4 linked regions of the Homo sapiens genome follow. The protein of the gene in region 1 interacts with the protein of each later gene in a biochemical or structural test. Each region holds a gene or a part of one and is shown in the gene's direction. Other genes may lie near its edges. The genes, in order: UBE2L3, RNF216, UBE3A and UBR5.

The links.
Region 2: the proteins of UBE2L3 (region 1) and RNF216 form a complex in vitro, tested with the Homo sapiens proteins (5 studies listed by BioGRID).
Region 3: the proteins of UBE2L3 (region 1) and UBE3A form a complex in vitro, tested with the Homo sapiens proteins (32 studies listed by BioGRID and IntAct, with this or other methods).
Region 4: the proteins of UBE2L3 (region 1) and UBR5 form a complex in vitro, tested with the Homo sapiens proteins (6 studies listed by BioGRID).

Annotation. Positions count from the first base shown.
Region 1 is NC_000022.11:21,590,996-21,598,926, forward strand, and holds part of UBE2L3 (ubiquitin-conjugating enzyme E2 L3), read left to right. Parts: intron 1-1,865; coding exon 1,866-1,961; intron 1,962-7,931. UniProt on the Homo sapiens protein: Ubiquitin-conjugating enzyme E2 that specifically acts with HECT-type and RBR family E3 ubiquitin-protein ligases.
Region 2 is NC_000007.14:5,708,409-5,716,339, reverse strand, and holds part of RNF216 (E3 ubiquitin-protein ligase RNF216), read left to right. Parts: intron 1-1,149; coding exon 1,150-1,287; intron 1,288-3,476; coding exon 3,477-3,625; intron 3,626-4,429; exon of another isoform or gene 4,430-4,500; coding exon 4,501-4,579; intron 4,580-7,931.
Region 3 is NC_000015.10:25,351,467-25,359,397, reverse strand, and holds part of UBE3A (ubiquitin-protein ligase E3A), read left to right. Parts: intron 1-2,501; coding exon 2,502-2,707; intron 2,708-3,341; coding exon 3,342-3,506; intron 3,507-4,714; coding exon 4,715-4,870; intron 4,871-4,971; coding exon 4,972-5,045; intron 5,046-7,931. UniProt on the Homo sapiens protein: E3 ubiquitin-protein ligase which accepts ubiquitin from an E2 ubiquitin-conjugating enzyme in the form of a thioester and transfers it to its substrates.
Region 4 is NC_000008.11:102,290,416-102,298,346, reverse strand, and holds part of UBR5 (E3 ubiquitin-protein ligase UBR5), read left to right. Parts: intron 1-740; coding exon 741-889; intron 890-1,362; coding exon 1,363-1,454; intron 1,455-2,564; coding exon 2,565-2,711; intron 2,712-2,814; coding exon 2,815-2,933; intron 2,934-3,016; coding exon 3,017-3,143; intron 3,144-3,235; coding exon 3,236-3,365; intron 3,366-4,231; coding exon 4,232-4,392; intron 4,393-4,502; coding exon 4,503-4,742; intron 4,743-7,931. UniProt on the Homo sapiens protein: E3 ubiquitin-protein ligase involved in different protein quality control pathways in the cytoplasm and nucleus. Mainly acts as a ubiquitin chain elongator that extends pre-ubiquitinated substrates.

The DNA of each region.
Region 1 (7,931 bases):
AGTGTGGGTGTGAGATCTCTTCCCCTTTCTGAGTCTGCCCAGGCTTCATAATCCCCAGGGGAGCATTTCTTATGAGTCTTGTGAGCAGGAGGACCAGGTGGCAGTTGGCAGGTTGGAGTGGTCCCTCAGGTTCCGTACCTCCTTATGCAGGGAAAGAGGGGCCTCATGCAGGTGGAGAGGGGCCAGGCCACCCCATTCCTCACTGCAGGAGGTTGCAGCCCATGCCGCTAACGCCTCCTCAGGGAGAAATGGATCCATCATCGCTCCCAGCAGTGCCTCTTCTCTCACCACAGCTATAGCCTGTGAGAAATCCCTATGTTCAGGCTCCACCCACACTTGCTGGACCAGAATTTCTGGGGCTGGGCCCAAGTCCAGGTGATTGTGGTGGGCAGATGAGGGTGACAGGCAGGAGCACCCTGTGGGGGGAAACTTGTGCCTGTTGCCTGCTATGAAGCACCAGTGTGTTCCACCTCTTCCGTGTATTCATTCACTGCACTCTCCCTCTCTGCTGCTCTGGGCCGGGCGCCCAGCACATCTTCCTACTCAGAACCAGTAACCTGGGCTCCGGTTCCCCCTTCCTTGCCAATTGTTTCCTTCCCTGCCTGTGTAGCCTCAGGGTGCCTTTTAAACTACCACTGTGTGATGGAAGTATGAGGTGCAAGGATCTTTTGGGCTTGATGTGGGGGCTGATAGGGAGCCCCCAAGCCACTGTGAGTTGAAGTACCACGTAAGGAGGTTCTGGAGGGTGCTGGAGCTGGGCCAGAGGAAGCAGCCTGGCGAAGGAGGCAGGGCTCAGCTGGATGGTGCTCGGGCTGCAGAAGAGAAGGTGCCTGACAGGTGTGGAGGCGGCTTTTGTGCCACTGGATGGGAGGCCGGGCTGAGGCGGGTAGAGTGGCACTTCATGTGTCAGAGTGGAGGAATGTTGGCGAGGCTGGTGTTCTGGCAGGAGGGCATTGCTGGGTGGTTTGGGTTATAGCGCCTGCCAGGCATTCACTGAGATGTTGGAGGCAATGGGAAATGTCAGGCTGGTGCACAGTTGAAAAACAGGTGACAGACAGTTCTGAAGACATCTCAGGCAGGACCCTGAAGTCGTAAAGTTGTGCTTTCTGGGTGAAATGGCACTTGCTGCATTGACTGTTTATACAACAATAACCCCACATATTTGCAAGGGGTCCTGTTGCCCACAACATGGCTTCCCTTTCCTTTTCTGCACTCTGGGTCTGTTTTGCAGCTGAGGAAACAGGCTCAGTGAAGGTTTCCCGTCCCCACCCCCCCACTCCCACCCCAGTCCCAGACTGGATGGTTCTCTTTGCTGTGTGCCCATGTTGAGGTGGAGTCCTTCTGAAATCACACTTATAGCACTGGGTAGAAAACTGGATATGCGTTTGTGTCTGGTTTGTTCCCAGTCCCCAGTTTTATTCATCTTTAGCTTCTCAGCATCCGGTGCATAATCAGTGCTTAATGAATCTTGATTGGAAGGTATCAGGTGTAGAGCACCTCAGGATAGCTCCTGCCACATGTCTGCCCTATGCAGGGTGCTGAGGGATTTAAACAGCCATGGTGACCAACCCAAAGAGGAGGTGGTACGTCTGCAGAAGCATGGTTCCCCCTGTCCTATTCAGGGGGGTTCACTGAGGTGGGGGCTTGTCTTGGTCTGGGGCATGGGGAGAGGCAACAACCTTGCAGAGGGGACCGCCATGGCAGCTCCATGCCTCCTTAACCACTCCAAGCACAGTTTAGTCCTCACTGTCCAATTTTGTCATTAGCATTTTTGGCACTTGGTTTAATTTGAGGGCATCAGGAGGGATCTTAATATGTGGTGCTTTCCCCTATTTGACACCCCTTTATGCTTTGTCAATCAACAGGAGCTTGAAGAAATCCGCAAATGTGGGATGAAAAACTTCCGTAACATCCAGGTTGATGAAGCTAATTTATTGACTTGGCAAGGGCTTATTGTTCCTGTGAGTATTGAACACTTCCACTTCCTACCAGATTATTCTTTAAGGTGATGTGTGTGCTGTTGGGCTTGTTTTTCTGCTCCTTAGTAGGCTCTTAGTCTAGGCAGCCAGCAGATGCACAGAAGTGGCTGTCGCTCTAGGGTGATAAGGTAGGGAGTGTAGCCTTGGGTCCTGAGTAGAGTCACATCTTGGCACTCGTTTTGTCAAATTCAGGGAGTCCTGAGCTTTGCAGATCTGTAGACACAGAGAAAAGGAGTGTGTCTGTGCTCCTGCTCTTTCCTGACTTCCCTGCGCCTGGCCTGATGGATCAGCAGGACCTTCTTCTCTGAGCTCCTCAGGAGGGGACAAGCATTCCCCTCTAGATATTTTGCTTTCTCTCTTGGTTTTGCATTCATGTCTCTAACCCTTTGGATACCTGTATTTCGGGCTTTATTCCTGGTCCCCTCCAACCTGTGCCTTCCATTTGTCTCAAGTCCCTTTTCCTAATTGCCCACATGTTCCCCTCACCCCATGTCTTTTCTGGGGCTTATGCCTCCAGTGTCTGCCCCCACAGCCCAGCTCCCCCATCTCACAGTCTTCTGCCTTCTGATGGGCTCAAGGCCCTCCTAACGATGGCTTTCCTTAGCACCCTCTTAGTGCCTACTCTTTTCTGCATCCTTTGATCCCCTCCCCTTCAAGAGGCTTGTCTTATAATTAACTCCAGTTTGCAATCCCCCTTCCTCTCACTCTCCTGAAACCACGTCACACCCAGCCCACAGGCTGCCCCCACTGTTGTCACACCTCTAGCTCGGCAGTGCTGGCATCATGGCCCTTGCTTGCCTCCTGAGCTTTTGGAGCACGGGCAGCATTCCAGCCCCCAGTCCTGTGACCAGCCTGCCACTCGCTCCTGTTCTGCCACTCCTTCCTCCTCACTCTTAAACATGACTCTTGTTGGTCTCCTGCTGTTCTCCTGTTCTGTTTTGTCTCGGGACCCTACTACTTTCGGCATCATAGATGATTATGCCAGACATGAAGGATTCCCACACCTGTCTCCATTCCTGCCTTCTCCCCGGAAGCTGCACCATCTGTCCACCAGGCGGCCTCACTTGGTCATTGTGTAGCCTTCAGCTACCTCAGCTCACACCCTTGTCCTGCGTGAGTGCCCTCCTTTCCTGTTCTTCCTCATCCACTCACCTTCTCTGTTCCTTTTCATTCCCACTTTGCACATCTGAGCCTCTGGCCCTTGCCCTGTGCCTGCCGCTGTCCTGTATATAATTTGTTCTCATGGATGGATTGGCTGCTTTGCCAAAGCAGAGCATGGAGCATGCTTCCTCCTGTAGATGCTTCTTCCTGATGCTGGTTATAAGGTCATGAGCATGGAGCATGCTTCCTCCTGTAGATGCTTCCTCCTGTAGATGATTTCTCCCTGTAGATGCTTTCTTCCTGATGCTGGTTATAAGGTGAGCATGGAGCATGCTTCCTCCTGTAGATGCTTTCTTCTTGATGCTGGTTATAAGGTGAGCATGGAGCATGCTCCCTCCTGTAGATGCTTTCTTCTTGATGCTGGTTATAAGGTCATGCTTTTTTTTTTTTAAGTCCCTGAATTTGATCAGCAGTTATTGGATTTGTAGTTTATTTCCATAATCATTTGGATAACTAAGGAAAGATATGCTTTGTAATGATTTAGTATGCTCAGAATGTTTAAATCTGGGAGCTTCCAGTCTGATTTTGAAGATGAGTCCTTTAGATTTCTTTAGGCTTGATGGTGTTAGGGCTCAGGGCAAAGGGTGTGGGTGGCAGAGACACCTCTGCATGGGAGGGGTTGGCCTGTGAGTGCAGCCCTTGCCTACTCTAGGGACCTGAAGATGGCCGGGACCATCTGACCTCTTGTCCCTTTTCTAATTGAGATTGTGTAGTCTACTGAGCAAAGAAATGAACAGTTAATCTGTGGCTCTTTGGAAAATGATAAAAATGAATGGAATGGTTTTAAGTGGTAAGGCTTGGGCAGTCTGGCCCTGAGAATTTAGTGGCCTGAGAGCCTGCTAGCCAGCTCCACGGGTAGATTGCTGCTGGGCATGCTCTGCCCCAACTCATGCAAAGGCCTCCCTCTGGTTTCACGCTGGCAGGGGCTATGGAGCAGTGGGCTAAGATCTTACTAGGGCAAAGGTGGAGGCTGGCTGGTAGAATCCAAGTGTGCTTGGGCTGAGGCTCTGGGGAGCTATCCAGGCCAAAGTTTCACCTTGGAGACGGTAAGCAACAGCCAGGGCTGCTCTTGTCCCTGTGTATACCACTTCTTCTCGGTCCTCTCCCTTGCTTTCTTCCAGGGCCCCTGGGTTTGTATGAGGAATGTTTCAATGAAGTCTTCTTCCTTCTCCAGAGCAGTTAAGGCATTGTTGACATCTGACATCCCCAGGGTCCACACTTGTACCCCAACCTGGGCTTTAGGTCTTCCTGCATTGGACGGGCTGGGCCAGCATGGGAATCTACTATACAAACTCACCTGAGGTCTGCCCAGTTGGGGTAAAAGTAGAGCCAGGCCGATGAAGGCATGGCAGCCCAGCCCTGGTCCTTAGTGGAGAGTGGTGCTGTCCTTGGGTAGCCACCTAGCGATTGCCCTGGTCGTAGTGCACAGAGGAGGGCAGGTGGGAGGGAAGGCTGGGGAGGTACTTCCTAGAGACTTCATTGTTGCCAACGCAACTCTGGTCTATTCCCTTTAAACATTTGTTTTTCTGTAATTTTTTTTCATCTAAGATGCTAAGGTAACGTCTAAGGAAGAAAATATTACCCATAATCACATCATCAAGAAATTCAGTTACATTTTGTGTACTGCCCTTTAGGAACTAGAGGTGTGGTAGTCACCCTTCTTGAAGCTTCTAGCCCAGTGAATGTGTTTACTCTTAACCTTCAGCATACTTCCTCTCAGCCTTTTTTCATGCAGTTTCTTTTTTTTCTTTTTAATTGAGTTGGAGTCTCGCTCTGTCGCTATGCAGTGGCACGATCTCGGCTCACTGCAACCTCCGCCTCCCGGGTTCAAGCGATTCTCCTGCCTCAGCCTCCCAAGTAGCTGGGACTACAGGTGCGCACCACCACACCCCGCTAATTTTTGTATTTTTAGTAAAGACGGGGTTTCACCATGTTGGCCAGGATGGTCTCAGTCTCTTGACCTTGTGATCCACCCTCCTCAGTCTCCCAAAGTGCTGGGATTACAAGCGTGAGCCACCACGCTGGCCTTCATGCAGTTTTTAATAAACCATTTCATAACTTCATAATAATGTTTTGGTTTTTTGAGGCAGGGTTTTGTGCTGTCACCCAGGCTAGGGTGCAGTGGTGTGATCATGGCCCATTGCAGCCTTGAATTTCTGGGCTCAAGCAATCCTCCTGAGTAGCCAGGACTACAGGTGTGTGCCACCACACCCAGCCAATTTCTTTTTATTTTATTCCATTTTATTTTATTTTTTGAGACAGTCTTACTCTGTCACCCAGGCTGGAGTGCAATGGTGTGATTTTGGTTCACTGCAACCTCAGCCTCCTGGGTTCAAGTGATGCTTATACATCAGCCTCCCGAGTAGCTGGGATTGCAGGTGTGCACCACCATGCCCAGCTAATTTTTGTTCTTGTTTTTGAGACAGAGCCTTGCTCTGTTGCCCAGGCTGGGGAGTGCAGTTATGCGATCTCGGCTCTCTGCAACCTCCATCTCCCGGGTTCAAGCAATTTTGGCTAATTTTTGTACTTTTAGTAGAGACTGGGTTTCTCCATGTTGGTCAGGCTGGTCTCGAACTCCCGACCTCAGGTGATCCACCCATCTCAGCCTCTCAAAGTGCTGGGATTATAGGCATAAGCCATTGCGCCCATCCTGTAACGTCTTAAATTTCCACTACAAAGGTTCCAGTTCATCCACATCCTTGCTAACATTTGTTATTTTACTTTTTTTTTGTTTTTACGTTACAGCCATTCTAGTTGGTATGTAGTGCTGTCTCATTGTGGTTTTGATTTCTGTTTTCTTCATACTAAGGATGTAGAACATGTTTTTGCATGGTGTGTTTTTTGTTTTTTTGTTTCTTTTTGAGACAGGGTCTCACTCTGTTGCCCAGGCCAGAATGCAGAAGCACAGTCTCGTCTCACTGCAACCTCTGCCTCCCGGGTTCAAGTGATTCTCCCACCTCAGCCTCCCGAGTAGCTGGGACTATAGGCGTGCACCACCACACCTGGCTAATTTTTGTATTTTTTGGTAGAGACAGGGTTTTACCATGTTGGCCAGGCTGGTCTCGAACTCCTGACCTCAAGTGATCTGTCCGCCTCAGCCTACCAAAGTGCTGGGATTACAGGCTTGAGCCACCGTGCCTGGCCTGATGCACTAAAGTTTTAAATTTTTTAATTTAATTTTTATTTTTAGAGAAGGGGTCTTGCTCTGTCATCCAGGCTGGAGTGCAGTGGCTCAATAATGGCTCTCTGCAGCCCCAGACTCCTGGGCTCAAGCAGTCTTCCCAAGTAGCTGGCACTATAGGCACATGCTGCAACCCCCAGCTAATTTTAATTATTTTTTCTGTAGAGATGGAGTCTTGCTGTGTTGCCCAGGCTAGTCTTGAACTCCCAGGCTCAAGTGGTCCTCCTGGCTTAGCCTCTGAAAGCTCTGGGATTTACAGATGTGAGCCATCACACCTGGCCTTAAATTTTTAATAAAGAAGTCCAATTTATCTATTTTTAATTTTGTTGCCTATACTTTGGTTTGATTTTTAAGACACTGTTGCCAAATCCAAGGTCATGCAAATTTTCCTGAGTTTTCTTCTAAGAGTTTTATAGTTTTAGCTCTTAAATTTGGATCTTTGATCCATTTATATGTAGATTTTTTTTTTTTTTTTTTTTTTTTTTTTTTTTGAGACAGGCTCTCGTTCTGTTGCCCAGGCTGGAGTACAGTGGCATGATCATGGCTCACCACAGCCTCAACCTCCCAGGCTCAAGCGATCCTCCCACCTCAGCCTCCAGAGTAGCTGGTACTGAAGGCATGAGCCACCACGCCCAGCTAATTTTTGTATTTTTTTTTTTTTTTTTGTAGAGATGGGGTTTTGCCATATTGCACAGGCTGGTCTTGAACTCCTAGACTCAAGTGATCCGCCTGCCTTAGCCTCCCAAAGTGCTGGGATTACACCACTATGCCCTGCCTCATTTCTTATTTTAATAATATGAGTCTTTTCTCTTTTTCCTTTTATCAGTCTAGCTAAAGTTTTTTCAATTTTGTTGATCTCTTCAAGGAAGGTTTCATTAATGTGTGTGTGTGTGTTTTTCATTTATCTCCTCTGTGCTTACTATTTACTTCTTTCTTGTGTTATTACTTTCTTTGTTCCTTAAAATATCCAGTTAGATTATTGATTTCAGACTTGCTTTTTCAATGTAGGTATTTAAAGCTGTAGATTCCCTTTGAGCACTACTTTTGCTGCATAACTTAAGTTTTGGTATGTCATTTTTTTTTCTGAGGATATTTTCTAATTTCCCTTGTGATTTCTTCTTTGACCCATTGCTTGTTAGAGAGTACGTTTAATTTCCCCATAATTGTGAGTTTTCTAGTTCTGTTATTGATTTCTAGTTCCCTTTCCTTCTCCCTTTCCCTTTCCTTTTTTTTTTTTTTTTTTAAATAAATAGAGATGGGGGCTGGGTGCAGTGGCTCACACCTATATTCCCAGCATGTTGGGAGGCTGGGGTGGAAGGATCGATTGAGCCTAGGAGTTCAAAACCAGCTTGGGCAATATAGCAGGACCCCGTCTCTATTTTATTAAAATAATAATAATAATAAATGGGTTCTCCCTGTGTTGCCCAGGCTGGTCTCAAACTCCTGGGCTCAAGCGATCCTCCTGCCTCAGCCTCCCAAAGTGCTGGAATTACAAGCATGAGCCACCATGCCCCCACCCGCCTAGTTCCATTTCTTTTTTTTTTGAGACAGAGTCACTCTGTCTCCCAGGCTGGAGTGCAGTGGTGTGATCTCAGCTCACTACAGCCTCT
Region 2 (7,931 bases), on another chromosome or scaffold:
CGGGGTTTCACCATGTTGGCCAGGCTGGTCTTGAACTCCTGACCTCAGGTGATCCACCCATCTCAACCTCCCAAAGTGCTGGGAACAGGTGTGAGCCACTACACCTGGCTACTGACCCTTTCTAATGTGGTATTAAGAATGGGTTGGTGGCCGGGCACCGTGGCTCGTGCCTGTAATTCCAGCACTTTGAGAGGCCAAAATGGGAGGATTGCTTGAGCCCAGGAGTTTGAGACTAACCTGGTCAACATAGCAGCACCCCATTTCTAATAAAAATTAAAAATAAATAAATAAAAGAATGGGGCTGGATGCAGTGGCTCACTCCTGTAATCCCAGCACTTCGGAAGGCCAAGGCAGGCACATCACGAGGTCAGGGGTTTGAGACCAGCCTGGTCAACGTGGTGAAACCCCGTCTCTACTAAAAATACAAAAAATTAGCTGGGCATAGTGGCGGGTGCCTGTAATCCCCACTACTCGGGAGGCTGAAGCAGGAGAATCGCTTGAACCTGGGAGGTGGAGGTTGCAGTGAGCCAAGATCGTGCCACTGCACTCCAGTTCGGGCAACAGAGTGAGACTCCATCTCAAAAAAAAAAAAAAAAAAAAAAAGAATGAGTTGGTGATTGGATCCGTTGCTATAGTTAATAAAAGGAGTCAATAGCCTGGTACATTACTTGAGGTTGCTGCTTTAGTTATAGCTTCAATAGTCCCTTAAAATAAAGCGCAGACCTCGATAGACCCATTCACACTCCTTATGACAAGAACAAAATTCAACTTTTGAAAGTTTTTTGGGTAACATCTCTCATACTCCTTATCCTTGCTGTTTATAATCACATTAGCATCTGAGTACAGATGTTCTAGTTCCCTTTGCACCATGGGATTGAATATGATAACTTTATATAAAGAATTACTCTAAAGAATACCAGAAAAAAAACACGAAAACCTCGCTGTTTTAGGTATGGATTAATACTGTGTTAGTATCTTGAGCTAGATTTATATAGCACGAAACAGCATATCATTGTTTTATGGCCCCTAAAATGGGTTGCTTTACCTCAGAATTTGTGTGGGGGGTGGCAGAGAGATGAGGATGGGAGACAAGGCTCCCCCTCTCCTTAAGTGCAGGACATTTCATGTGTGTTTCTTGACTGCCTGCAGGATGGCCAGCTGATTGAGTGTCGCTGCTGCTATGGGGAATTTCCATTCGAGGAGCTGACGCAGTGCGCAGATGCTCACTTGTTCTGCAAAGAGTGTCTCATCAGATATGCCCAAGAGGCAGTCTTTGGATCTGGAAAGGTAAGAACTGTGTAATATGTCCCATGTATATAGGACACATTCCTGGAGTCTAAGGAGACCATGTTGATAGATAAGTGTAAGTGCCTCTTTGAGGGTGAGGTGGAGTTCTGCTGGTATGCTTATGTGTACATTACCTGATGTATGTGATTATGTGGGTTCTCTGAGCACAGCAGATTTCTTTTCAGGGCACAGTAGAATTCTTCCACACTCCCACGCCTAGCCGCAGAGGAGCACCTCCTTCGTTCATCATCTTATTTGTATTCAGAGGGAAGGTTACCTCAGAAAGAGAGAACCTTGCAGCCTATTGGATTAAATATATATTAAAATAACATAACTTACTTTACACAAGATCATATTTCTCTCTCCAAAGTGAGTTTCTCTGGACACCAGCATAACAAACACAGTATGGGAATTTTACATTGTTTTACACCACCGAGTTTGTGGTATTTTGTTCCAGCAGCAATAGAAAACTAACACAGTGATTAAGAAGATGACTTTTTGCCCGGGTGGCTCACGCCTGTAATCCCAGCACTTTGGGAGGCCGAGGTAGGCGGATCACCTGAGGTCAGGAGTTCAAGACCAGCCTGACCAACATGGAGAAACCCCATCTCTACTAAAAATACAAGATTAGCCAGACCTGGTGGCGCATGCCTATAATCTCAGCTACTGGGGAGGCTGAGGCAGGAGAATTGGTTGAATCTGGGAGGCAGAGGTTGTGGTGAGTTGAGATCGTGCCATTGCACTCCAGCCTGGGCAACAAGAGTGAAACTCCATCTCTAAAAAAGAAAAATAGGCCAGGCGCTGTGGCTTATGCCTGTAATCCCAGCACTTTGGGAGGCTAAGTTGGGTGGATCACAAGATTAGGAGTTCGAGACTAGCCTGGCCAACATGGTGAAACCCCATCTCTGCTAAAAATACAAAAATTAGCCAGGTGTGGTGGTGGGTGCCTGTAATCCAGCTACTCGGGAGGCTTAGTGAGCTGAGATCGCACCACTGCACTCCAGCCTTGGTGACAGGGCGAGACTCTGTCTCAGAAAAATAAATAAATAAAGTTTATGTTTTTTCAAAGAGCGTGACCTTTGGAGTCAAGCAGAATGCATTGGGCCATGCCCCCATCAGCCATACTAGCCCTGTGATCTTGAGCAATTTAAATTCCTTAAGCCACTGTTTCTTCCTCTGTAAAATGGAAATAATCATAGCATTGTTTTGAAAGCTAAATGAGGTGATGAGTTTAATGAACTTATTGTTTGACACATGGTAAATGCCTCATAAATTTTAGCTAGTTATTTTTAAAATGTCGTCTTTTTCCATTTGTTTTCTTTGGTGTTTGTCTTTCATGTGGGAAGCATTCCTCATGTCTGACACTTTTTGTTCATGTTAAAGAGCTGTTTGAAAGCTGTGTGAGTAGTGGGGCTTATAGACCAGTGAGTTTGACTCTAGGTGCATAGGAGCCAGTTAGCTTTTATATTATGAACCTGAATGGCTCTGAAGTCTCTTACCTGGGGTGATTCAGTCTGCCTCCTGCCTGGTGGGTGTGAGCCCATTTTCCAACATTCTGAAACTGAGGGGGAGGAAAGGTCTGGAGAGTTCTCTGTTCATTATGCAGACTCCATTTCAGACTCTGACTTCAGGCCACCCCTCAGCTCTGCTCTCCTCTATGAGTGGTTTCCAGTCCAGAGCCGTGTGGTCCAGCTGTTCAGGAGATCTTCCTCATTTCTCTCAGAGTCAGCCAATTCCTTCTGAAGCGGGTAGGAACTAGAGGCTCCACCCATGTCCCTGTTTTCAGTTTATTACTTTGAGTCCCTGCCCCTCCCCACCACTCAGCTCTGCTTTCCAGAGGTTCTCCAGCTTTCTAATATCTGTAGAGGGGAACAACTTCTCCCCAGCATCTCCTTTTCAGACCCTAAGCTATGGGCTTCTGTGTGTGGTCTGCTAAGCCATTTGCCCTTCCGCCACTTTCAGTCTTTGTGGATTGTGATTTGGGCTAATAGAGGTCCTTTAGTGATATCAAAGATGTACTGGATTTTTGTTTCATGGTTTCCATGATTTAAGTGTGATTTCTCAGAGATGAACAGGCAGAGAGATCCTTGCTATGTTGTCTCAGGATCTATGTTTTTAACCACTGACGCTTTTTATTTTTCTATAAATGGTATTGATTTTTTTTTCTTTGCCTTTTCGCCTTTTTCTAGTTGGAGCTCAGCTGCATGGAAGGCAGCTGCACGTGTTCGTTCCCAACCAGTGAGCTGGAGAAGGTGCTCCCCCAGACCATCCTGTATAAGTACTATGAGCGAAAAGCCGAGGAGGAGGTTGCGGCAGCCTACGCCGACGAGCTTGTCAGGTTCGTTCTCAGGCAGAGCGTGCCATCTGCCAACTCTTCCCCATTGTGAAAACTACCTGGGCACTTGCATCAGATGATGAAAATTGTGTTTATCTTCCAGGTTTTTTGACATTTCTTGCTGAGAAATAAGATTATCAATAATTTTACTTATTTATTTTTATTTTTTACGCCTCAGAACCATTGAGTAACCAGTAATTCTATTAATGGAAAAATCTGCCCCTCAAACTTCTTTTTTTTTTTTTGAGGTGGATTCTCGCTCTGTCGCCCAGGCTGGAGTACAGTGGTGCAATCTTGGCTCACTACAACCTCCGCCTCCTGAGTTCAAGCAATTCTCATGCCTCAGCCTCCTGAGTAGCCTGGATTACAGGCGTGCACCACCACATTCCAGCTTATTTTTAGTAGAGACGAGGTTTTGCCATGTTGGCCAGGCTGGTCTCCAACTCCTGACCTCAAATGATCCACCCACCTCAGCCTCCCAAAGTGCTGGGACTACAGGCGTGAGCCACCGCGCCCAGACTGTAGCTCAAACTTCTGTCTACATATCTTGGCACCCCCAAATCTTCTGGCCCGTAGATACAATCATGGTGCCCTGGGCTGGAGGGAAATCGGTATATGCAAGGAGTTCTCATTAAGGTTGGGACGTGTTTATTGAGTGGTTTATATTCAGTCAGGACCTCATGTGGTGCTTATGTTTCCTGATAAGAGCCAGCACAAAGAAGAGGTTCAATCTGTGTTTTTAAGGAAAACTAAGGAGTATAAAGGGGATGTGAATGTCCAGCTCAAAACTCCATCTTCATATGAACAGCCACATGGAGCTGGAACCAGATCAGGCTTTAATGTTTGAAGTAATGTCAGTTCTGCTGTTCTGACTCTAGGTGCCCGTCCTGTAGCTTTCCGGCTCTGTTGGACAGTGATGTGAAGAGGTTCAGCTGTCCTAATCCTCACTGCCGAAAGGTAGGGAGGCACATTTTTTTCTAGATGTATATTGAATTATGGTATTATGGGCTGCCCTCATGGCCCAAATATCTGCTGTTTACCTGACTGCTGATGTATAAGAAGGATTTGAGTGCTTTCCTTTTCATAAGCAAATGAGGACGAGTACTTTGTGAGTAACGGTTGACATGGTTACTGAGATGGCAGCCACTCTTGCCACTCCAGTTACAAAGCTCTGGATTCCTATTTTATATCATCTTCTTTAGGACAGATACTATAATGTAAAGTGGGAAGTGTTTAGTTTTTCTTCCACTGTGTCAACATTTTTCTTGCTTGCTCTCTTCACCACCTGTGCTCAAATAGCCCCTGCTACCCCTCCCTCCCCACACACACACCTTTTGCCATTTTCAAAGTCCAAACGACGCTTCTTTGATTGAGGAACTGGGCATCTTAGTGGCATCTCCATCACATCTGGTAGGTTATTTATTTGACTGTTTCTCCTCATGAGAACTGACTATATTACGTGGGAGCAGAGCTGTCTAGGTGCATTACTGTTGCAGATCTTTGTTCCCTTTAACTTGGCGCCCTGTGAACTAAGAATGTCTTAAAATCTTTCAGCTATTTAGAAGCCACTTAGAGTTTTTAGTGAATATTAGCATCCACCTAGACAAATACGCTCTAAGCCATTTTTCTAAAATTGCATGATTAGAGTTGAACACTGCAATATCTTTGCCTTGGGGAGAGTAAAGAAATTAAGGTAGAGATTAGAAAAGGAAGAATAAACTAAACTAATGGATCAAAACTTTATTTCTTTTGTTTTCAGCATTAATATTTCTGGCCATTTTATATGTTCGCACCCCAGGCTGTTGCTATAACAATTGTCACAACAGTCGCTGGCATCTTGCAGCTCTTAAGAAAGCAGAGTGCTAGCGTGTCCCTTGTGTGCTTCCAGTGGGTCAGGTGTTGGACTGCCTGGGGAGGTGATGCCTACGCTAAGATGCAGCAGATAAGGAGGAAGTAGCCAAAGGATGGAAAGGGTGGGAGTGGAGTGGAGATGGAGAAATGTTCTAGGCCCCGGGAGTGGCAGCAATGTGGACGCTTACTGGTGCTAGGAGTGTGAAGGAGGCTCATAAGCTGAGTAGGGGCAGGCCCATGCAGCACACTGTCCTGAGGTGGGGAGAGATAAAATATAAGGAAAGTCTACTTGCCTATTGAGTAGTCCAGGTGAGAAATGTACAGCACTGCACAGCCTCTTGGGTCTTCATGAGTTGCTTAGAAGGAGCTGGGAACTACATTTCCTGGTAAGGTTTCAAAGAAGGTCTGCCAGTGAAAGTGCTTATGTACAATTGGGAAGGCCAAAGAAGAGGAGAGACCATTATTCTCTGAGGACGTTTTTTGTTTTTGTTTTTGTTTTTAAGTTTTGAGGCAGGGTCTCACTCTGTTGCCCAGGCTGGAGTGCAGTGGCACGATCTCAGCTCACTGCAACCTCCGCCTCCTGGCTTCAAGCAGTTCTCCTGCCTCAGCCTCCCAAGTAGCTGGGATCACAGGTATGCGCCACCACGCCTGACTGATTTTTATATTTTTAGTAGAGATGAGGTTTCACCATGTTGGCCAGGCTGGTCCTGAACTCCTGGCCTCCAGTGATCCGCCCACCTCAGCCTTCCAAAGTGCTGGTATTACAGGTGTAAGCCACCACCCCCAGCCTGAAGACATTTAAAAGCAGCTGCATTGGTTGCCCAGTGGCTCATGCCTGTAATCCCAGCACTTTGAGAGGCTGAGGCAGGAGGATCTCTTGAGACTAGGAGTCCGAGACCAGCCTGAGCAACATAGACCCTATCTCTACAAAAAAAATTTTAAAACTCAGCTAGGCATGGTGGTGTGTGCCCATAGTCCTAGCTACTTAAGAGACTGAGGCAGGACAATCAGTTGAGCCCAGGAGATTGAGGCTGCACTGAGCCATGATTGCGCCACTGCACTCTAGCCTGGACAACAGACTAAGACTCTGTCTTTAAAAGAAAAAAATTTAAAAAATAAAAGCCTGAGGGCACACATGAGTCTGGAACAGCATCTAGTGAGTATCAACTTGGCATGTTGGTGGGAGCTTCCCAGGGGCTCTTAAGATCCCAAATAGGAACACCACATATGTTTTTGTTTGTCTATGGGAGGAATATACATGGCCTGCTGAACTTGAAGGTAGCCATGTAGCTTCTTGTGGTCAGTGAAACATGTGAGTAGTTAGATCACTTGCAGAAAAAGCCGTAAAGGCATGTGGTGTGGGGTAGTGTCAAGATGACAGAAGAGAAAGCTCCAGACCCTCTTTTTCCCATAGAGAGAACAGTTCAACAACAACGGAAGGACCATTTCTCTCTGTGAGAAATCCAGAAACCAGTTGCATCAAAGGCTGGGGAATTTGTGACGCTGGCTCTCCAGAGTTCCTCCCCCTGGCACAGCACCATGTGATTGGGAGGAAGCTCCCAACTCCTGGCATCTTTCTGGGGAGGAAAAAGAAGACTGGAACATATATCTAATATTCAGACCTTTCAGGAGGCTGCTCAAGGGACTGGTTTCTGTCTTGTCTCACAGGAAAGGGCACCAGGTTGGGGACCTCTGAGGACAAATGGGATGGTGAAACTAGCACGTACTGACTCCTCATTGCCCTCTCCCTGCTCTTCTCGGGAGGGAAGGAGTTGGAGCATGAGTCCAGCATTCTAGGTTTTCTGGAGTCTGCCCAAGACTCTCGTTCCTGTCTCACTCGATGAAGCACTGATGGGACCTGGCATGGTCTAGGTCCCTGGGGGCTGCTGAGAACAAGAGAAAGCTGGGTGGTTTGTACTGCGCCAGAGGACCCACGGTACAGTAGGCAGAGTCCAGTGCACCTCGAAGGCTGCTTTTTGGGTCCAGGGGAAGAGTAGAGCATGTGTTCAGCATTTGGGCTTCTCAAGGGGCTGCCTGAGGGACTGGCTTCTGTCTCACCCAACTCACTGCTGGCAGAACCCAACCTACTCTAGATGCCTTGGAGCTGCTGAGGCCAAAAAAGAGCTGGGCAGCTTACAGCAGCTCCAGAGGGCCTGTGATACCTCAGACAGGCACCAGAAGAAGCAAGAGCTTGCAAGCTCCTGAAAAAAGGAAAACAAAAGCCTGAGCACTTATATTAGCCTACGATTTAGCAAAATCTTCTTGCAGGAAGCCTATTTTAGAATAAAGTATGAGTATCTCATGTAATTTATTGAGTACTGTACTGAAAGTGAAAAAGAGAATGATTGTATGGGTACTTGAATTACAGTTTCTACTGAATGTGTATCACTTTCACACCACAGTAAAGTCAAAAAGTGTAAAACCATTGTAAGTTGGAGACCATCTGTATATGCACCCG
Region 3 (7,931 bases), on another chromosome or scaffold:
GCTAGTGTTTTATTAATAACTAAAAAGCTATGCCATTTGTATGTAGTTTGTTCTAAGTAAATCAGAGATACATAAGACGACGCCCTTTTTGAGATAGAAAATTATAAACTTCATAAAGTTCTTAAATTTGGTAAACCTTAGCTCTAGCTTTTGATGTATCTAGAAATGTTAAACCTTAGCTATAAAGCATACTTGCATTATATGCAGAAATACTTGTAAGAAAAAACATAGATTAAGCAGTTCCAGTAAGATAACTGAAGTGATGGCAGTAGAAGTATCAAAAAGGAGTATTTTACCAGGAGGTTATGGTGCTTTTCTCCCTGGAACATGAGAAAATGTGCCTAAAATGGAACTTCAGAGTTATATTCTGATTAACTTATAGCTTGTTGCTCTTGGTTCCAAGGAAGGGCATTTGTGACATTTTATTAAATTCATTAATTTTTTAGACACACCATTGTCAGCTTGAACAAATTTATTAATTGTAATTATTTGTCAGCTGTTCTTGATCCTGTTAATACCATACTTATAACTAAAAGCATTTCCATGGATGTTGTAACTTGGCCTGTAAAAAAAATGTTTAGATAGAAACCATGAAACTCAAATATGAATTGTTTAATTTTCAAACCATTTTGCATTCAGAAAATGTCCTAAGCTTAATTCATACTCCTAGTGATCAAGGAAACATGTTAAAGCTCCTTATTTTTAAACTTAAAGTGACAATGACATTTTCAAAGATTTTAAAATTCTTATAAACAGGTTAAAATACTTATATACTGTATAATTTGATTTCTGATTTCTAAGCTCTACTTTTCTATTGGAAATTACAGATTTTTTTCAGACTTAATTCTTAAGATGTTTTCATTGTTTCACAGTAGCAACTAAACATGTAGTAAAATGATTTAAATTCAATTAAAATTTTTTTCCTTAGTCATTTAAAAGGGAAGAAATCAATTTTTAGTAGTACTCATTCCAAAGATTCCAATTTTCCTTTTTTTTAATCTTTTATTTTTTGGTGGAGGGAGGCAGGATCTGGCTCTGAGGCCCAGGCTGGAGTGTAGTGGTTCTGTCTCGGCTCACTGCAACCTCCACCTCCCAGGCTGAAGACTCAAACCATCCCCATGCATCACCCTCTCAAGTAGCTGAGACTATAGGCACATGCTACCACACCCAGCTTATTTTTTGTGTTTTTGTAGAGATGGGGTTTCTCCATCTTGCCCAGGCTGGTCTTGAACTCCTGAGCTCAAGTGATCTGCCTGCCTCAGCCTCCCCAAAGTGCTGGGATTACAGGTGTGAACTACCACACCGGGCCCCAATTTTCCAATGAGTGATATAAAAAAGGCCTCCACGCAGGCGCCTGTAGTCCCAACTACTCCGGAGGCTGAGGCCAGAGAATGGCATGAACCCGGGAGGCGGAGCTTGCACTAAGCTGAGTGCTGCTGCACTCCAGCTTGGGCGACAGAGCGAGACCGTCTCAAAAAAAAAAAAAAAAAAAAAAGCCTCCATGATTGGGGCTTGCATAGTGAAGACCATGTGAAATTGAAAGACTACGAAACTACTTTTCTTTTACGTATTGGCCCATAATTAACATGTGTATTGAATAGCTTTGTTTATCTAAGTTCATCAGATTTATCCAGGTTTATGTATTTCAGATCATCTGATTTTATTAGGAAAATGCTAGAAAAATTTCATGGCACCATTGTCTAATTTTGAAAAAACGAACCTTTCTTTACTGTGATTAAAAATTGTTTTTTAGGCCAGGTGTGGTGGCTCACGCCTGTAATCCCAGCACTTTGGGAGGCTGAGGCTGGCAGATCACGAGGTCAAGAGGTTGAGACCATCCTGGCAAACATGGTGAAACCCCTTCTCTACTAAAAATACAAAAATTAGCTGGCGTGGTGGTGCACACCTGTAGTCCTAGCTACTCAGGAGGCTGAGGCAGGAGAATTGTTTGAACCTAGGAGGCAGAGGTTGCAGTGAGCTGAGATCGTGCCACTCCAGCCCACCCTGGGTAACAGAGCGAGACTCCATCTCAAGGAAAAAAATGAAAAATTGTTTTCAAAAATAGTACGTGTGGTACAGATATAAGTAATTATATTTTTATAAATGAAACACTTTGGAAATGTAGCCATTTTTTGTTTTTTTATGTTTATTTTTCAGCTATGGGTGGATAAAGCATGAATATAACTTTTCTTATGTGTTAGTAGAAAATTAGAAAGCTTGAATTTAATTAACGTATTTTTCTACCCGATGCCACCAAATTACTTACTACTTTATTCCTTTGGCTTCATAAAATTACATATCACCATTCACCCCAATTTATAGCAGATATATGTGGACATTGTTTTCTCAAGTGCTAATATAATAGAAATCAATGTTGCATGCCTAATTACATATATTTTAAATGTTTTATATGCATAATTATTTTAAGTTTATATTTGTATTATTCATCAGTCCTTAATAAAATACAAAAGTAATGTATTTTTAAAAATCATTTCTTATAGGTATGTTCACATACGATGAATCTACAAAATTGTTTTGGTTTAATCCATCTTCTTTTGAAACTGAGGGTCAGTTTACTCTGATTGGCATAGTACTGGGTCTGGCTATTTACAATAACTGTATACTGGATGTACATTTTCCCATGGTTGTCTACAGGAAGCTAATGGGGAAAAAAGGAACTTTTCGTGACTTGGGAGACTCTCACCCAGTAAGTTCTTTGTCATTTTTTTAATTCAGTCTCTTAGATTTTATTTAAATGCAAAAATTTAATTTATGTCAAAATTTTAAAGTTTTTGTTTAGAATCTTTGTTGATACTCTTATCAATAAGATAAAAATGTTTTAATCTGACCGAAGTACCAGAAACACTTAAAAACTCAAAGGGGGACATTTTTATATATTGCTGTCAGCACGAAGCTTTTGTAAGATTGATTTCATAGAGAAGTGTTTCTAAACATTTTGTTTGTGTTTTAGTGAAATCTTAAGAGATAGGTAAAAATCAGAGTAGCCCTGGCTAAGGGTCTTGGTAGTTACAACGAGTGTGCCTGCTCCTACCACCCCCACCCCCACCTTGAGACACCACAGAATTTCTCATAGAGCACAGTGTGAATTCTATTGCTAAATTGGTGGTATGGGGTTTCTCAGCAGAGAATGGGACATCACAGTGACTGACAATCTTTCTTTTATAGGTTGGAAACTATTTGGGGGACTGGAGGGATACTGTCTACACTTTTTACAATTTTTATTGATAAGATTTTTGTTGTCTTCTAAGAAGAGTGATATAAATTATTTGTTGTATTTTGTAGTTCTATGGTGGCCTCAATTTACCATTTCTGGTTGCTAGGTTCTATATCAGAGTTTAAAAGATTTATTGGAGTATGAAGGGAATGTGGAAGATGACATGATGATCACTTTCCAGATATCACAGACAGATCTTTTTGGTAACCCAATGATGTATGATCTAAAGGAAAATGGTGATAAAATTCCAATTACAAATGAAAACAGGAAGGTAATAAATGTTTTTATGTCACATTTTGTCTCTTCATTAACACTTTCAAAGCATGTATGCTTATAATTTTTAAAGAAGTATCTAATATAGTCTGTACAAAAAAAAAACAAGTAACTAAGTTTATGTAAATGCTAGAGTCCACTTTTCTAAATCTTGGATATAAGTTGGTATGAAAGCACACAGTTGGGCACTAAAGCCCCTTTTAGAGAAAGAGGACATGAAGCAGGAGATAGTTAATAGCTAAGTGTGGTTGTAGTATAAAGCAAGAAGCAGGGTGTTTCTTGTATTAAGCTGTAAGCAGGAACCTCATGATTAAGGTCTTTATCACAGAACAAATAAAAATTACATTTAATTTACACATGTATATCCTGTTTGTGATAAAAATACATTTCTGAAAAGTATACTTTACGTCAGATTTGGGTTTCTATTGACTAAAATGTGTTCATCGGGAATGGGAATAACCCAGAACATAACAAGCAAAAAATTATGACAAATATATAGTATACCTTTAAGAAACATGTTTATATTGATATAATTTTTTGATTAAATATTATACACACTAAGGGTACAAAGCACATTTTCCTTTTATGATTTGATACAGTAGTTTATGTGTCAGTCAGTACTTCCACATTTTTGCTGAACTGGATACAGTAGGCAGCTTACCAAATATTCTATGGTAGAAAACTTGGGACTTCCTGGTTTGCTTAAATCAAATATATTGTACTCTCTTAAAACGGTTGGCATTTATAAATAGATGGATACATGGTTTAAATGTGTCTGTTTACATACCTAGTTGAGAGAACCTAAAGAATTTTCTGCGTCTCCAGCATTTATATTCAGTTCTGTTTAATACATTATCGAAATTGACATTTATAAGTATGACAGTTTTGTGTATATGGCCTTTTCATAGCTTAATATTGGCTGTAACAGAGAATTGTGAAATTGTAAGAAGTAGTTTTCTTTGTAGGTGTAAAATTGAATTTTTAAGAATATTCTTGACAGTTTTATGTATATGGCCTTTTCATAGCTTAATATTGGCTATAACAGAGAATTGTGAAATTGTTAAGAAGTAGGTGTAAAATTGAATTTTTAAGAATATTCTTGAATGTTTTTTTCTTGGAAAAATTAAAAAGCTATGCAGCCCAATAACTTGTGTTTTGTTTGCATAGCATATTATAAGAAGTTCTTGTGATTAATGTTTTCTACAGGAATTTGTCAATCTTTATTCTGACTACATTCTCAATAAATCAGTAGAAAAACAGTTCAAGGCTTTTCGGAGAGGTTTTCATATGGTGACCAATGAATCTCCCTTAAAGTACTTATTCAGACCAGAAGAAATTGAATTGCTTATATGTGGAAGCCGGGTAAGAAAGCAGGTGTCTGCAAAAAGTCATGTATCGATTTATTGTTTGTAATGATACAGTAGTATAGCAGATAACTAAGACATATTTTCTTGAATTTGCAGAATCTAGATTTCCAAGCACTAGAAGAAACTACAGAATATGACGGTGGCTATACCAGGGACTCTGTTCTGATTAGGTGAGGTACTTAGTTCTTCAGAGGAAGATTTGATTCACCAAAGGGGTGTGTGATTTTGCTTCAGACCTTTATCTCTAGGTACTAATTCCCAAATAAGCAAACTCACAAATTGTCATCTATATACTTAGATTTGTATTTGTAATATAATCACCATTTTTCAGAGCTAATCTTGTGATTTATTTCATGAATGAAGTGTTGTTATATATAAGTCTCATGTAATCTCCTGCATTTGGCGTATGGATTATCTAGTATTCCTCACTGGTTAGAGTATGCTTACTGCTGGTTAGAAGATAATTAAAATAAGGCTACCATGTCTGCAATTTTTCCTTTCTTTTGAACTCTGCATTTGTGAACTGTTACATGGCTTCCCAGGATCAAGCACTTTTTGAGTGAAATGGTAGTCTTTTATTTAATTCTTAAGATAATATGTCCAGATACATACTAGTATTTCCATTTTACACCCTAAAAAACTAAGCCCTGAATTCTCACAGAAAGATGTAGAGGTTCCCAGTTCTATCTGCTTTTAAGCAAATGCCCTTACTACTCTACTGTCTACTTCTGTGTACTACATCATCCAATTCTGAAAGACATAGGCTTCCCCATCCCCTGCTAAGACTGGTTCAAGTGGCAGCTACTGATGGATTGCAGTGAGAAGGCATGCAAACACGTACCTTCCTGGAAGTTGTCTCCAAAGGCTATTGCTCTAAGACTCAAGTATATAAACACTAGAATGAATATCAACTCTATCTAGCAATAAATGTTATTTTTATATTACAGTTGACCCTTGAACAACACAGCTGTGAACTTCATGGGCCCTCTGACATGCAGATTTTTTTTCTCAACTAAGAGCAGATTCAGTATTGGTGGGACTCAGAACCTGCATATACAGAGGGCTGACTTTCATACATGCCAGTTTCACAGGGCCAACTGCAGAACTTGAGCGTGCATGGATTTTGGTATACACACGTGGTCCTGGAACCAATCCCTGTCACATATACCAAGGGATGGCTGTATGTTACTTTATATTCATTTGTTCTGTTATTTTATAAGGTTGTTCGTCGTGGTATGTGGGAATTCACCAGTATTTCTTCTTTCTGGTGCACCGTTGGTCATTTCTGGCAGCAGTGGTGAATGTATTTACTCTTAGCAACCTCTGTGCTGCTACCTGTTCTGAGTTTCAAAGGTGATTCATTAAAGGGTTGGGATAACATGGTGATAGGAAAAACCCCCCTCATCAGTCACAAGGAGTATAACAGCAATATCTCTGTAATATGATTGATCATAGATATAATTTCTAGTAGGAAAAAAAGTCATATCTTGATGCATCTCTGAGAATAGTTGAACATATCTTGTGCTATTCTTTATAGAGAAATTATCTTTGAAATTAAAGTCTTAATTTTACTTCTAGCTTTTTATAACAACATAATCCCTACTTGGTATGTATCTTAAGATCATTTTTAAATGTATGATTTGAAGGGCAAACTAGTGTTATGTGAAAAATGACAGATAAAGTAGCTTCCAACTCATCCTCAAGAGTTGATGATATTCTAAACCTTTTCTAACTAAATTCAGCTTCTTAATTTTCTCAATATAAATATGATGAAAATATTAATTCATTAAATAGTCTACAAGTATTCGGTAGTTGAAGACTTAAAGTAGTGCTTGTAATAACAGAAGAGAAAAAAGACATTACAGGCGTATCTCACTTTATTGCACTTTGCAGATACTGAGTTTTTTTGGTGGCAACCCTGCATCAAGCAGGTCTACCAGCACCATTTTTCCAACAAAATGTGCTCACTTCATTAGCATTTTTAGCAATGATTTTAAATTAAGATAATGTACTTATTTTTAGACAATGCTGTTACACACTTGACTACAGTATAATGTAAACGTAACTTTTATAAGCACTGGGAAACAAAAAAATTTGTGTGACTCACTTTACTGCCATAATCACTTTATTTGCCATGGTCTGAAACTGAACCGGCAGTATCTCTGGGGTATGCCTGTATAGATATTTTGGTTGGTATTTATTTATTGTATGCAGAATTCATAAAAATAAAAACTGCGAGGCTGTTTAATACATTTCAACTAAAAGTTGCCAGCATCATTAATATGTAAACCACTAGAAATAAGATTTTGTTAATTTTTTGTTTGTTTGTTTAAACAGTCTTGCTCTGTCACTGAGGCTGGAGTGCAGTGGCGCAGTCTCAGTTCACTGCAACCTCCGCTTCCTGGGTTCAAGTGATTCTCCTGCCTCAGCCTCCTGAGTAGCTGGGGTTACAGGTGCACACCACTACACCTGGCTAATGTTTGTATTTTTAGTAGAGATAAGGGTTTTGCCATGTTGGCCAGGCTGGTCTCAAACTCCTGACCTCTGGTGATCCGCCCGCCTCGGCCTCCCAAAGTGCTGGGATTACAGGCGTGAGCCACCATACCTAGCAAAATCAACTCTGAATCTGAATCAAACCTTTGAAACAAAAATTACCAATCAAAAAAACGTGCAATCCCTGCTCCTAACTTTGAAAAAGTGACAAGGAAGGACATTTGGAAAGATGTCTCTAAGCAGTCAACAAGAAATGAAATCAGGGAGAGCTTTTTCAGCACCTGAAAAAATACATGCAAAAACGCCCGAGGCGGGCAGATCACCGGAAGCCAGGAGTTTGAGACCAGCCTGGCAAACATGGGGGAAACCCCGTCTCTACTAAAAATACAAAAATTAGCTGGGTTTGGTGGCAGGCAGCTGTAATCCCAGCTCCTCGGGAGGCTGAGGCAGGAGAATCGCTTGAACCTGGGAGGCGGAGGTTGCAGTGAGCCTAGATCGTGCCACTGCACTCCAGCCTGGGCAACAGAGTGAGATTCCATCTCAAAAAAACGAAAAACAGATTC
Region 4 (7,931 bases), on another chromosome or scaffold:
ATTCTCTTCTGTCCATATATTATAATTATTCAGACTGGATTTCTATATATGTAAATGATACAATTGGTTGGAAATGATCAAGATTTGTGTGTGTATGAAATTCATGTGTTTATTATTCCTTCAAGTTTACTGTATCTTCCAACTTTCCATCAAAAAACAGCTGATATAAATTTATTGATTTAAGAATAAACACTCCGTAATGAACAGTGTAAAATCTTTGGAAAATAAGATGGATTACTGATAGAACCTCTTGGTAGTTAATTGGTGTTAAGTGATATAACTTTACAGAATAATAGACAGATGTCTTGTTATTTCTGACAGAATTCCTGCTAAATAGAAAGCATTAAGGAATATCAATTCTTACCTTCCAGCCTTTGAAAGATTAAAGTAGTTATCTTTTTAAAACACTGATAAATAGTTTATGAGATGGTCTATAATTTGCTAAATAGAGCCAGGAGTTGAGTCTTAACTGCCTGAAACAGAGCTAAGGATTCAGATGGCTGATGTATAGTGTGTTTGTATTGGCATCATATGTGGGTATGATGTAATTATGCTTTACTTTATATTGTTCCAGAGTTGGTTAGATTTCTTTGCATGTCATCTTTGTATATCACTTTTTAAAATTGATATATAATTTCTGGTTTATATTGTGTGTATGCTAAGGCTTTCCAGTTGAAGAAAATGGATGGCTAATTAAGTCCTTTCCTGAAAGATGAACTGCTATGTTCTTACTTTTTTAGCTGAAATATCCTCAAGTGAAAAAGAGGAAGATGTATTCATGGGAATGGTTTGCCCATCAGGTACCAACCCTGATGACTCTCCTTTATATGTTTTATGTTGTAATGACACTTGCAGTTTTACATGGACTGGAGCAGAGCACATTAACCAGGTAAGTTATTTCTACATTTTCCTGTATTAATCATATCTTTGTGTCTTTTTTCGCTATGACTATCACTAGACTTACAGTTTTCAGCTTTGGAATTAAGTCTGATATGAAGAAAGTTGATTTAATTCCTAAGTAAATGAGGCAAAAGAGCTGATTGCTCAGTTAAATATGGCATACCATGAAAATTGGAAATTTTCACTGGGTAGTATAATCTGATCCACAAATCTTGATACAGATTTTATAACTACAATGCCTTTTTGGGGATGATACAAATTATTTTTTTCTACTGGTAATATTTCTATTTGTATATCATAAACTGTATATTTGCTGTAGCCCTTTATAAGTTCTAGTTTTCCAAAGCACATTAATTTTGTTTGTTGAGATTGAATTGTTCTAGAAAATACCAGAAATAATTATTATGATGAGATATATGCATACTTATAATTATTCCTTTAAAAGTACACTCTTAATTTTAGGATATTTTTGAGTGTCGAACTTGTGGCTTGCTGGAGTCACTGTGTTGTTGTACGGAATGTGCAAGGGTTTGTCATAAAGGTCATGATTGCAAGTGAGTACAATTCTAGTTTTCTTTAGTTTAATATTATAAGCTGTTTAGATTTATATTGCTGTATGGAAATAATCTGTACTAAGTCATGTTTTACTTCAGAAAGCATGAGGTTACTTACGTTTCCCTTGTTTAAGTCAGTTTATGTATAATAGTGTGATTCTTGATTTAAAGTATACTGTGAAATGTTTGGTTTCTTTGCTAGTTCAAACATTGCCCTCCTTAAATAAAAGTAGGTGATTATACATTGTAACTAGGATCAGATTAGTCTTTTGAGAAGTATATCTACAGAATGTTCCTGAGTGTATTATGCAGCGGAGGTCTCAGGTCCCCTGTAGTGGGGTATACTAGGAGAAAATTGCCATAGGCCTAGAGGGAATCATGGTGAATGTTTAGACTGTGTCTTAAACTAAATGCAACAGTCTTTCATTCAGCAACAGTTACCACAGCTAGTTCTGTTGGTTTTCAGAGACCTGAGAAGCAATGAAATACCTAGCACTAACATCTGTGGTGTTTTAGGATTATGGATAGGGACTTCAGTATAAATGGCTACAAATGTTATAATAGAGAATTGGACTGTAAAAACCATCTACCGTACCATTAAGTAATTGTATAGGACAAATGAAAAATTTTAATAGATATTAAAAGAATTCTGGTTGGTATTTTTTGTTTTCCTTATTTTAAGTACCTAAAGGTGTGATAATCTGTTGTTATTGATTGTTTTCCAAGTGTACTAGATGCCAGGGTGGTGGTGAATAGTCCTGACAGTGTTCACATCCCTATCAGAAGCAAGAAATATCTGCCCATAGGGTTACAGGGTTCATTAGGTCATATAGGAGGACCACTTGAACAGGACTGGGAATTAGGGAAGAGATTCCAAAAGTGATTGTACCTTAGAGTACCTCTTCTCATAGGAATTCTGTGTTGCTTTATAGATGTCATTACTACCAAGTAATCCTTCTTGTTATATAAGCTTTGACAGTTATACTTTGCATTTAGAAATTAACAAGGGCTCTCTCTGGTTTCAGTGAGTTATACCTTCATAATGTCAACATAAACCTTTGTATGTTTAAAAAATTTCAGTTTTTGTACTTGTGTATAAATTCTCTATAGACTCAAACGGACATCACCAACAGCCTACTGTGATTGTTGGGAGAAATGTAAATGTAAAACTCTTATTGCTGGACAGAAATCTGCTCGTCTTGATCTACTTTATCGCCTGCTCACTGCTACTAATCTGGTTACTCTGCCAAACAGCAGGCAAGTGGGATTTTTAGAACATACAGTAAGTTAAATCAAAAGAGCGCAGCACAGCTGAGTAGCTTTTCAGCCTCCCTCCTCACGACAACATTCTGTTTTGCAGGGGAGAGCACCTCTTACTATTCTTAGTACAGACAGTCGCAAGGCAGACGGTGGAGCATTGTCAATACAGGCCACCTCGAATCAGGGAAGATCGTAACCGAAAAACAGCCAGTCCTGAAGGTGAGTTAATTAGACATTTATGACACTTGTGGGAAGCAATATGTTTTATTTTTGTTTTGGTCACTATTTCTTTTTCATTTTAGATTCAGATATGCCAGATCATGATTTAGAGCCTCCAAGATTTGCCCAGCTTGCATTGGAGCGTGTTCTACAGGACTGGAATGCCTTGAAATCTATGATTATGTTTGGGTCGCAGGAGAATAAAGACCCGTACGTATTCATTAAAACCTTTTTAGATTTATGTATTTCCTACGTTAGTGTAGACCTTTTACAGTTCATTCTGTCTTTCGTTTCTCCTCAAGTCTTAGTGCCAGCAGTAGAATAGGCCATCTTTTGCCAGAAGAGCAAGTATACCTCAATCAGCAAAGTGGCACAATTCGGCTGGACTGTTTCACTCATTGCCTTATAGTTAAGTGTACAGCAGATATTTTGGTAAGTTCTTTGAATGTGTATTACAAGTACATGAAAAGTATGTTTTTCAAGTACTCTTCTTTGCTGTGAAACTAGAAAAGAATTTAAACCTTAAGATCCAGTGCGAATGAGGTTATGGTAATAACACACTCAGATAGGGATGGGGTGGCATTGCATCGTTCCTTTCTCTGGAAAACATAAAACTATCAGTGCCCTCAGAACCTGTCATAAATAAATAATTTACGATGTGAGAAAAATAAAGGCATGTCACAGAATAATGTAAAATTTAAAAACAGAAAAATATCAGCCTAATACTAGTGTAATCTTGAATCAAATTATAGCCTGACCACTTACTGGAATATGATGCAGCAATTTAAAAATAAATCGTATTGTAAATAACGTAAAAAAAAAAACCAAACAACCAAACTGTGAAAATTGGGTGTTCTCTGTAGCTAACATTTATACAAGAAGCTGCACACAGAAAAGAGACTAGAAAGTAATAATGGTTCCATGAGGGAGATGGGATTATGAATTTATTCATATAAATATTTGAGTCTGCTTTGCTGTTTTGGAAAGTGCCCCAGACTGAGTTTATGTTTTCTTCTTCTGATTTCATATATTTGGTATTGTTCTTCTAAATATTAGTTGATATACCAAGGACTGTGGGACAAAAAATAAGAAATCGTACATTTAGGACTCACTGTATGTCAAGCACATTGGCAGGTATATTTCATAAACTGACCTTGTAAATGTTTTGGTTAAATTTGTTTTGAGATTTTATTATAAAATGTTAATACTTAAAAAATGTTAGAACTTATAACTTTATGAATGTCTAAACATCTTATGAAGTATCTTAACATTAATAGAGTGAATATAATTTTTTAAAGCTTTTAGATACTCTACTAGGTACACTAGTGAAAGAACTCCAAAACAAATATACACCTGGACGTAGAGAAGAAGCTATTGCTGTGACAATGAGGTTTCTACGTTCAGTGGCAAGAGTTTTTGTTATTCTGAGTGTGGAAATGGCTTCATCCAAAAAGAAAAAGTAAGGCATCCTTTTTGATTTTGGTTTAGATACCATTTTCACTCTGTTTTTGTGATAGTGATTTATGTATATGAAAAGATAGATTGCTGATATTTCTCTTTTTGTTCTAGCAACTTTATTCCACAGCCAATTGGAAAATGCAAGCGTGTATTCCAAGCATTGCTACCTTACGCTGTGGAAGAATTGTGCAACGTAGCAGAGTCACTGATTGTTCCTGTCAGAATGGGGATTGCTCGTCCAACTGCACCATTTACCCTGGCTAGTACTAGCATAGATGCCATGCAGGGCAGTGAAGAATTATTTTCAGTGGAACCACTACCACCACGACCATCATCTGATCAGTCTAGCAGGTAAATTGCTACCAGGTAACAGATTCTGATTAATCCTTCTCTGGAAATGTCGTGTTTGACTTCCTAAAACCTTTGCATAAGCACTCAGGTGGTGTACATGATCATTTGTGTAACATAAATAACAACCAGAAAGCCGGAATTTTAAATATTTTTCTACAACAACTGTATTATCAAGGACAGGGCTAAAATAACTCCATTATAAATGTTTCTAATTATAAGATTATTTGTTCTTAAGTTTCATTTATCTTTTCTATTTGTTTGATAGTTTCCCTAATTACACTGTAAGCTTGTTGAATCAGGATGTTGAGCAACTTAAAACTTTCCGATGTCCTTTAGCACACTGCTTCTCAAACTTTAATATGTATGAAAATGACTTGGGGCTCTTATTAAAATATAGATGCCCACTCTAGAGGTCTTGAGGTGGGGCCTCCAACTTCGTATGCCTTTCAAGTTCTCAGGTGATGCCAATTCTGCTGGTTTAGGGGTCAGACTTTTCAGTAATAATGCTGTAGATCTTTGGCAAATATTTAGTGTATTTTGTTTTTTCAAGTCTGATTTTATAACCATGTGCATGTGTGATGATGTTTTAATAAGGACCTTTAGGATCTAAAGACCCTTTTCCTCCTTTTCTGGAAAACATCTCTGTTAATAAGGATGGCCTGCTTTAGTGTTTGGGATAGTTCCCAAGTTGTTACGCTTGGATTTGATCTGGGTTGGTGTTGAGTATCTGCTCTCACTATTCTCCTATATGCCAGTATATGTGTCCCAATTTTTCCTTTAATGTCAGGTGTCCCTTTAATCTAAATCCAGTTTTGTCTGACAGAGCTCTCCCATAGTATCCTTGATACTGATATACATCCAGGACTTGTTGAAAACTGTTACAAATCAAGCTGTGTATCTTCAGACTTGTCAAATCTATCCCATGATTAAATAATTCTGCTTGTGAGATCTGCTTGGACTCTGTATGATTTTCCTGATCTTGATACCCTGTGAGGAACTCATTAGTTACTTAAGTGGTATTACTTTGTGAATTCTTAGTATACTTCCCTTGATCTTGTTCTGGAACATAAAAAATTGATGGCTGTTGAACAGATTTTGGGATCGTCTCATCTCTAAACACTGCCCTTGAAACTGTTCCTACTAAGTTTCAAGATTTTGTGTCATCTTGTTCTTAGTCTCATTATTAAAGTATTACATACTCTTAAACTCTCTTTATTCCATTCCCTTTGCTTGTTTCTTGAGACAACTTCCTAAATCTTCCCAGAAGGAGATCTCATGTGATAATCAAGAAATAGTGCTAATGTTTTCTTCAACTGTTAAAAGTTCTTTATTATAGTACAGTACATTCTTACCCATAAAGGGTGTATTTTGACTAGTGTTCCAAGGATGTCTTAAGTTGAAAAACACAGACCTTGACCATTCTCTGGGATTTCACTTGTCTTGGATTATAGAAGGTGTATATCACCCCATTGAGTGTGAAGTCTTAAGAGTAGCTTTTTCTGTTGCTTCTTTCCACCTCTTGAAAATGTTCTTGTTATGTTCTTAATAAATAATCTGTTTCTACTTTATTTCCATGTCTCTCATATAACAGTAACTAACAGTTACTGAAATTTTAGTATGTACTAGGAACTTTCCTAAGTATTGTAGACAGATTACCTGTTTTAATTTTCCCAATATGTCATAGATAACCACTATCATTCTAGTTTGTCAAATGGGGAAACTACGGCTCAGAAAAGTTAGGCAACTTCTCCAGTGTAACACAGCTAATTAAAGTTTAGACGCTGGACTTACCTTGACAGATACTTCCTTTTTTTTTTGTATTCTCCTGAATAGTAGATGGCAGAGTAGAGAGGAAGACTACTTGGTGCTTGCTCATAGTGTTGAGCCACCACACAGTTAACCAACACTGAACCAGGCTTTATAGTGTAGAGTGCAGTCCAAAACTCTCCAAAATGCAGACTTGTAGTTAGAAGTTCTCAAAAGAGACCTTTTTCCATTCTGCATCTATTCATGGCTGAGATAGGTAAATCTCTCGAGGTATGATTTTTCTGTTTCACTCCTTCATGGTGTTGCCCTTTTAAGATTTATGTTTAGCTTTATATATGTGAGGGGGACAGAAGAGGAGATTCCTGTGATGACTTTCTATTCTTTGCTTAGCCTCCAGACTCTCATGTGAAATCTGTGGTTCCTTGAAGCCCTTCTAGCCCAAGAGACATCAGTGGGTCCCTTTGGGATAAATGGTGGCACTTGTCTCTCCAAGCTTTATACAGTACAGTCGTTTCTCTTTATCACCTGCACAGCTGTCCTTTTTTTTTTTTTTTTTTTTAATATCTAGCATATATATGTGTTCCTTAACAAGAGTGGTTTCTCTGCACAGTCTGCCAAATTGCTGGAACTAGAAGTCCCCAAAACTTAGTAGTGTATTAACGGGGCTTTTTAGACTAGGCTTCAGGACTGTTGTGCTTCATTGTGCCAGCAAGTCTGTTGGGAAAAAAGTTGAAGTCACACTAACTGGGGAGTTACACAGGTTGAGTATTCCTAATCTGAAAATGAGAAATCTGAAATGCTGCAAAACCGGAAACTTTCTGAGCACCAACATGATGCTCAGAGGAAATGCTCATTGGAGCATTTTGGATTTTGGGATTGAGGATGCTCAACTGATAAATATATATAATGCAGATACTCCAAAATTTAAAAAAAAAAAAAAAAACCCAAGATCAAAACACTTCTGGTCCCAAGCATTTCAGGTAAGGGATGTTCAACTGTAATACGTTTTATGTATTGGTATTTTTAAATTACTCTTTTTAAATTTTTTGTAGCGTTTGGGTCTCGCTGTGTTGCCCAGGTCGGTCTTAAATTCCTGTCCTCAAGCAATCCTCCCACCTCAGCCTCCCAAAACATTGGGATTACAGGCATTAGCCACTATACCTAGTCTGTTTTGGCAGTATTATACATACTAACTGCATAACTTCTTAAAGTAACCACTTTGAGGGGCCTATAGTTCTTGTGGATGTTTGTTCTAGGATGTTTGTTTTAAAAAAGAAATACTCATTAGTTGTGGCTTCACACAGTGCTTTTATGTTTTAATATTGAAATCTCTTTAGTGGTTGGAAATACCCTTTTTCATCTCTACAGATTTTCTCTTAGCCTTTCCCACTTTTGTAATCCACGATCTCTGTTTTACCAGTT